Linked DNA regions of Homo sapiens. The protein of the gene in region 2 purifies or fractionates together with the protein of the main gene of each other region. This does not show direct contact. Each region holds a gene or a part of one and is shown on either strand. Other genes may lie near its edges. The genes, in order: SDHB and D2HGDH.

Evidence for each region.
Region 1: the proteins of D2HGDH (region 2) and SDHB purify together in Homo sapiens (affinity purification with mass spectrometry; 2 studies listed by BioGRID and IntAct, with this or other methods). This does not show direct contact.

What each region holds. Positions count from the first base shown.
Region 1 is NC_000001.11:17,051,871-17,055,776, forward strand, and holds the start of SDHB (succinate dehydrogenase [ubiquinone] iron-sulfur subunit, mitochondrial isoform 1 precursor), read right to left. Parts: upstream 2,163-3,906; 5' UTR 2,150-2,162; coding exon 2,078-2,149; intron 1-2,077. UniProt on the Homo sapiens protein: Iron-sulfur protein (IP) subunit of the succinate dehydrogenase complex (mitochondrial respiratory chain complex II), responsible for transferring electrons from succinate to ubiquinone (coenzyme Q).
Region 2 is NC_000002.12:241,732,229-241,736,134, forward strand, and holds the start of D2HGDH (D-2-hydroxyglutarate dehydrogenase, mitochondrial isoform 1 precursor), read left to right. Parts: upstream 1-2,401; 5' UTR 2,402-2,467; intron 2,468-2,904; 5' UTR 2,905-2,996; coding exon 2,997-3,288; intron 3,289-3,906.

The DNA.
Region 1 (3,906 bases), on a different chromosome or scaffold from region 2:
CGCTCTTGTCGCCCAGGATGGAGTGCAATGGTGCGATTTCAGCTCACTGCACCCTCCACCTCCCAGGTTCAAGCAATTCTCCTGCCTCAGCCTCCTGTGTAGCTAGGATTATAGGCGCCCACCACCACGCCCAGCTAATTTTTTTTTTATTTTTTTAGTAGAGACGGGGTTTCACCATGTTGGCCGGGCTGGTCTTGAACTCCTGACCTCAGGTGATCCACCCACCTTGGCCTCCCAAAGTGCTGGAATTACAGGCATGAGCCACTGCACCTGGCAAGATACACACTTTTAAGTAGGTAGTTCTTGTCCTAAAGGAGTTCATAGTCCAGATGAAGAAATAAGGCAACACAAACAATAGTTAATATACTACAGTCAAATACTTACAGGCAGAATTGTGGTTCAGTGGTCAGACTATAAGCATAAAAAGAATTCAGAACCTGAACCTGAATGTTACCCACAGGTAACACACCAAGCTCATTACTGAATTCTTTTGAGGTGGCTTTTGTGGGTATACATGTACATTCCCACAAGGAAGGGGAGGCCTTGGGGCTCTTCTATTTTCTGTTGCCCTCAGGAGGCCCTGCAAAGACCTTGCCTGGAATTACAAAAATGACCTATGAAATTAGCCTTTTCTACAATGCATTCTTAGAAGAGGGGCTTGGAACTCTCTCGTTAGTGGGGCTCTCACAATTTAATTGTTTGCTCAGCAACTATAAAAGGAACAGGTAAACAAGCTCATTATCAATCATCAATTTAATACTGAGAGGATGTCAGCTTGAGGCTCTGGTAGGCTGTCTTCTTCCTCTATCTCCCCTTTTCAGAAAGGCTGATGCAGACAGAGTGGATCCAAGTTCACACACAGCATGCTGGATAGAACCAGGATTGGAACATGGGCAATATGTACTGTGTTATGCAGCCATAGCAGGCACTTAAGATGAAAGATGTCCTCATTTAAGTGCAAGAGAGGAAGAGGAACTAAAATTTCTTGGACACCAACCATGTCCCAAGATCTATGCTAAGGAGTTTTTCTGGTACCATGTTAAAAAACTGCCTCAGGTCTGCTTCTTGGGAATGTGATATTTTGAGCAAGCCAAAAATTTTCTTTCTGGGGGCCTCAAGTTTTCAAAGCTCCAAAAAGGAGGGTAAGGATTCTTGCTTGCCCACCTTAAAGGGGTTGTTGAGAATCCCAGAAGAGGAACAGACTTAGAAAGGATTTGCAAATCCTTAGTCCCTTATGTATACAAAAGCAATTTCCCTTCCCCTTCTAAATGTTCCCACTTAGAAGGCAGGTCAGAAATGTGTTGTTTCTTGGCCATACAAGGGGCGTGGGAAAATCTGTTACTGCACACGGCATAGTAATAAACAAGAACAGCGCCAAGCCCTCTACCTGTCATTCCATGTCAACTCTATGAGGTCCGTATTATTATATGACCTTTAGAGTCAGAAACACTGAGAGGATACTAGTGAAACTGTGGTGACACTGCTTTAAGGAACCCAGTCTTTCCTGCAACCCCCACCACCCACCTCCGGGATCCTTCGAGGTAGGGGGCTGGGTGCATTTCCCTCCATCTCTCCCTTCCCCTGCCCTGTCCCCAACAATTCACATGTCCTTTCCTCACCCATCCCGGTCCTCAACCTCGCACCCTTGAGGAATTACCTCGCTTCCCAATTCCCATCCTTCACACCCCGCAGGTCTCCCTTTTCTACAGAGGCGATAGTTTGGTGGCAGAAAAAGGGCTTGGAACTCCAATGTCTGGATTCAAATTCTGGTTCCAGCAGTCATTCGCTTGCCATGTGACCTTGAGCAATTCAAGTCCCCTTTCTGAACGTCCCCCCCCCCCGCACCCTTAGCTGTAAAAAATTGCCCGTGCCCTAACTCACAAGCTGCTGCGAGGCGCAGAAAGATAACTTGACAGGGATGCTCGAAGCCAAACCAAAGCACTGCACCAGGGGGAGGAGGTCCTCCATCTCCCTGAGGCCTTGCCCTATGCTTCCTCAGTCTCTCCGCAGCCCCATCAGCTCCAGGCAGTCTCTGTGGCTTTCCTGACTTTTCCCTCTCTGAGGCTCCAGGACTCACCTGCAGGCAGGCTCCGCCAAGGGTTGTGGCCGGCAACCGGCGCCTCAAGGAGAGGGCGACCACCGCCGCCATCTTGGCTCCTGACGTCAGCCCCACCCCTTAACCCCGAGGTCGCTCTCCGCCGGTGTCCCGTCGAACATCGCGGCGCCCAGCCTACATCCACTGAGGACCCACTAGCCGCGTACGAGCAACCAAGTGGGAGGCGGCTTCCGGTTTCCCGGGTGGGCGGAGGGAAGGCGGGGCAAGCACAGCGAGCGTGCGCAATAGCGCAGTAGCGGCGCATGCCCATTTGGCTTCCCCCGTGACCTTCTCAGAAAGGGGAGGAGTCTGAGAGGCAGGGCGACTTTCAGGGGGTGGGGCTAAGACTTAGATGGGGCGGAGCCATCCTATCCGGGTCCCTGCCCCGATTTCAACCTCTTTATTCCTGGAATTTTTGTTTGTTTGTTTGAGATGGAGTCTCGCACTGTTTCCCGGGCTGGAGTGCAATGGCGCGATCTTGGCTCACTGCAACCTCCGCCTCCCGGGTTCACGCGATTCTCCTGCCTCAGCCTCCCGAGTAGCTGGGATTACAGGCGCACACCATCACACCCGGCTAATTTTTTGTATTTTTAGTAGAGACGGGGTTTCATCATCTTGGCCAGACTGGTCTTGAACTCCTGACCTCGTGATCCGCCCACCTTGGCCTCCCAAAGTGCTGGAATTACAGGCATGAGCCACTGCGCCCGGCCAATTTTTTTTTTTTTTTTCAGACAGGGTCTCACTCTGTTGCCCAGGCCGGTGTGCAGTCTTGGCTCACTGCAGCCTCGACTTCCCAGGCTCAAGCGATCCTCCCACCTCCAGAGTAGCTGGGACTACAGGCGTGTGAGCCACCATACCCGGGTAGTTTTTTTTTTTTTCTTTTTTTTGAGATGGAGTATCGCTCTGTCTCCCAGGCTGGAGTGCAGTGGCGCGATCTCGGCTGACTGCAACCTCCGCCTCCCGGGTTCAAGCAATTCCCTGCCTCAGCCTCCCGAGTAGCTGGGATTATAGGCGTCCGCCATCATGCCCGGCTAATTTTTTTGTGTTTTTAGTAGAGATGGGGTTTCACCATCTTGGCCAGGCTGGTCTTGAACTCCTGACCTCGTGAGCCACCCACCTCGGCCTCCCAAAGTACTGGAATTACAGGCATGAGCCACCGCGCCCGGCCACCCGGATAATTTTTTTAAAAAATTATTTGTAGAGATGGAGTCTGGCTATGTTGCCCAGGCTGGGCTCAAGCAATCATCCTGCTCCAACTTCCCAAAGTGCTGGGATTACAGGCGTGAGCCACCACACCTAGCCTCCCTAAGAATTTGTCAGTCTTATTATTCATCTCTGACGCTTACTGGCTTGAGTCAGCCCTTTCTGTCGCATACCGTGCAGCTTGCCCGAGGCTGCCCAGGTTTCTGCACTGAGAGTCCCAAACAAACTGGGCAGTTGGTGAATGAGCTGAGGTGATTTCAAGGGTGGCTGGCAAAGGTGCCATTCTTTTGTTCGTTCATTCATTCATTCATAAATACGAATGGAGTGGCTACTATGTGGCAGGCACCAAGTGCTGGGATGCTGCAGGGAATGAGCAAGCCAGGTGGTCACTGCTCATTGAATTTACTCTCTAGTGGTGGAGACGGCAAGTGAGCAGACAGCTAGACACTGTGAGCTCTGTTCTGTACGAGAGGGTGTGCCCAGAGAAGGACACCCAGTCCTTGGTGGCTTTGTTAGCCATTTAATATAAGAAACCATTTCTACTCTGTGCCAAACATTATGGTCCATTATCCCACTTAATCCCCACAGCAGTTCTGTGAAGAAAGTTT
Region 2 (3,906 bases):
CAGGCTGCACTGATATTTATTGGATACAAGACAAAGGGTCAGGATAAGGAGAGTGAGCCATCTCCAATGATAGGTAAGGTCATGTGGGTCACGTGTCCACTGGACAGGGGCCCTTCCCTGCCTGGCAGCCGAGGCAGAGAGAGAGAGGAGACAGAGAGACAGCTTACGCCATTATTTCTGCTTATTAGAGACTTTTAGTACTTTCACTAATTTTGCTACTGCTATCTAGAAGGCAGAGCCAGGTGTACAGGATGGAACATGAAGGCGGACTAGGAGCGTGACCACTGAAGCACAGCATCACGGGGAGACGGTTAGGCCTCCGGATAACTGCGGGCGAGCCTGACTGATGTCAGGTCCTCCACAAGAGGTGGAGGAGTACAGTCGTCTCTAAACTCCCCCGGGGAAAGGGAGACTCCCTTTTCCGGTCTGCTAAGTAGCGGGTGGTGTTTCTTGACACTTTTCGCTACCGCTAGACCACGGTCCGCTAGGTAACGGGTGTCTTCCCAGACGCTGGCGTCACCGCTAGACCAAGGAGCCCTCTGGTGGCCCTGTCTGGGCATAACAGAAGGCTCGCACTCTTCTGGTCACTCCTCACTATGTCCCCTCAGCTCCTATCTCTGTATGGCCTGGTTTTTCCTAGGTTATGATTGTAGAGCGAGGATTATTATAATATTGGAATAAAGAGTAATTGCTACCAACTAATGATTAATGATATTCATATATAATCATATCTAAGATCTATATCTGGTATAACTATTCTTATTTTATTATACTGGAACAGCTCGTGTCTTCGGTCTCTTGCCTCGGCACCTGGGTGGCTTGCCGCCCACAGTTGGTATCGAACTCCTGACCTCAGGTGATCCACCTGCCTCAGCCTCCCAAAGTGCTGGTATTATGGGCGTGAGCCACCGTGCCTGGTCAGAAAAATCAGTTATTTTAGGGGATGGTATGGGTGGTAATCTTTATGGGTTTTGAATCATTCCTAATCCCAGGGGTCCAAGATGCCACTGGCCTGCTAGTCAAAGGGAGGGCGTGTGGAGGTCAGGTGGTAAGGGGGTCCACAGACCTCATCTGTGGTCGTCTTTCCAGTTCCTGAATGTGTAATTGCAACAGTTACCCTTGACAATGGGCAAACTCCCACACTCATCTGCAGAGCAAGGGCCAGCCAGGTAGGAAGGGCCAGGTGGATGTCTCCTTTCCAGGGTTGTATGAATGATTCACCTGGGAAGAAGGTGAGTGGCCTCTGGGGATGTGGTTAAGGAGGACAGGAATGACTCCTTGCAACTGCTGCTCCAGAGCCTCATCACCAGGACAAATCCAGCTCGCCGGTTTTCTGTGTGACTACCAGGACCCATCTGCTGTCACGGGCGTAGCCTCCACCTCTTGCACAGCTCCGCAGTCCTGCCTCGGGCCAAGTGTGGTCTCCTGCTCTCTGCCCTCATCTGCTCAGAGATTGGCATCCTCTGCACCCGCTAGGGTTCTATGGAATTGGGTGAGCTGAAGTAACAAGTGCTTTGGGAGGCCGACGCGGGCGGATCGCTTGAGTCCAGGAGTTCGAGACCAGCCTGGGCAGCACATGAGACCTCATCTCTACAAAAATACAACAACAACAAAAAATTAGCCGGGTGTGGTGGTGCACGCCCGTAGTCCCAGCTACTTGGGTGGCCGAGGTGGGAGGATGGTTTGAGCTCGGGAGGCAGAGGTTGCAGTGAGCTGAGATCAACCCCAGAACTCCAGCCTGGGCAACAGAGCTAGACCCTGTCTCAAAAAAACACAAAACAAGTGCTGGCGATGCCTCAGGCAGGGGATCCCAGGCCGGGAGGCTCCTCGGGACAGCAGTTACTGCGTCAGGAGGGCAGGAGCTCCCCAGGTGTGCAAAGGGTTTGAGGGCACGGAGGGCTGAACAGGCAGAAGGGACAGGGAGGCAAGAAAACACCTGCAGGAGGCAGCTGCCCCCTAAGCTAAGGCTGGGGACCCAGGAGGGGTGGTCCGTGCAGGAGCTGGGGAGGCCGCTGGGGAAAGGGGCGCCCCCTGGGCTCGGCCTCGGAGGAGCGGGCCGGCCCCCAGGTCCCTCGGCCGAGCCCACGTCCCGGGCCTCGTTCTGGAGAACCCTCCAGCTGCTGCTTGGGCGTCTTGGGCTGCGCTCAGCCTAGTCCCTTCTCTACCTGGAGGGATGCGCCCGACAGCCGGCGCGCCGGAGGCCCTCAGGAAACGCAGGACGAGGCGGTGGCCGTCGAGCCTCCGGTGCCAGTCGGGGCGGGGCTTGGACGGCGGGGCGGGGACTGTAGGCGCGCAGGGCTGGGCCTGGAGGGCAGGCGGGGCGGGGCCCGTTAGGCGCGCGGGGCGGGGCTTCGGCCGCTGGGCGGAGCCGTCAATGCGCAGGCGCGGCGTCGCCCCGCCCACTCCGGCTCGGCGGCTCTGGGCCTGCGGCGGGCGCTGCGGGTTGGAGCTCGGGACGTGATCGTGGGTGCGTGCGCGCGGCCGCGCGGAGCGCTGGGCTGAGGGTCCCGGTCTGCGGTTCAGCCGCGGGTCGGGGTGGCGGGGCGCGATCTCGGGCGCCGTCAGCCAGTCGGTGCCTGTGGGGGGAGGGGGACGGCGCTGCAGCTCGTCACGTGACCGCGTGGAACACGCGCGCGCGTCCGCGGGATCCCCTCGGGGGGCGAGCTCGGAGGAACGGGGTCCTGGGCAAGGTCCCGGCGAGGCCGCCCCGAGCCTGCGCGTCGCTAAGTCCAGGCCTGCTGCGTGGGGCTTCGCGCGCTCGCGGGGTTGCGGCCCGGGCAGGGGGAGGGCCCGGGTGCTCGGAGCCTTCCCTTCGCTGCCCTCCTGCCCCCTCCCTGCTTCTGCAAGCGTGTTTCAATTTGTACAACGTGCATAAAACATGAAATTACCCTTGGCCACTTCCAGGCGCGCAGCCAGCGGCTCCCTGCCCTTCCCCTCCGGGCCCTGAGTACCGGCCCCCCACCAAGGAGGAGCCCGAGGTCTCCGTCCCGGCGGCGATGCTGCCCCGTCGGCCTCTGGCGTGGCCCGCGTGGCTGTTGCGGGGTGCTCCGGGAGCCGCGGGTTCTTGGGGTCGGCCGGTTGGCCCCCTGGCCCGCAGAGGCTGCTGCTCCGCCCCGGGGACCCCCGAGGTGCCGCTGACCCGGGAGCGCTACCCCGTGCGGCGCTTGCCGTTCTCCACGGTGTCTAAGCAGGACCTGGCCGCCTTTGAGCGCATCGTGCCCGGCGGGGTCGTCACGGACCCGGAAGCGCTGCAGGCTCCCAACGTGGACTGGTTGCGGACGCTGCGAGGTGGGTGAGGCTTGGGAAGCTGCGGCGTTTCCGCGTCCCTGCTCCGCTGCGCCTTCCCGTGGAGGCTTCAAAGCGGGCTGAGAACAACCTGGATGGGGGTGCCAGCCCCTGGCTGCGCTGAGAGGGGCGTGTGCACCGCCACAGGCTGCTGGAATGAATGACCACGAACGAGTCGCTTAGAACAACCCAAGTTTTGTTGTTGTTGTTGTTTTGTTTTTTCTTTTTTTTAAGACGGAGTCTCACTCTGTCGCCAGGCTGGAGTGCAGTCACGGAGTTTCACTCTGTCGCCAGGCCGGAGTGCAGTGGCGCGACGTCGGCTCACTGCCACCTCTGCCTCCCGGGTTCAAGCGATTTGCCTGCCTCAGCCTCCCTAGTAGCTGCGACTACAGGCGCCCGCCACCACGTTCCGCTAATTTTTGTATTTTTAGTAGAGACAGGGTTTCACCATGTTGGCCAGGATGGTCTCGATCTCTTGACCTCGTGATCCGTCCGCCTCGGCTTCCCAAATTGCTGGGATTACAGGCGTGAGCCACCCCGCCCTGCCAACAACCCAAGTTTGCCTGGCGCAGTGGCTCTGCCTGTAATCTCAGCTGCCCTGGAGGCTGAAGCCAGGAGTTC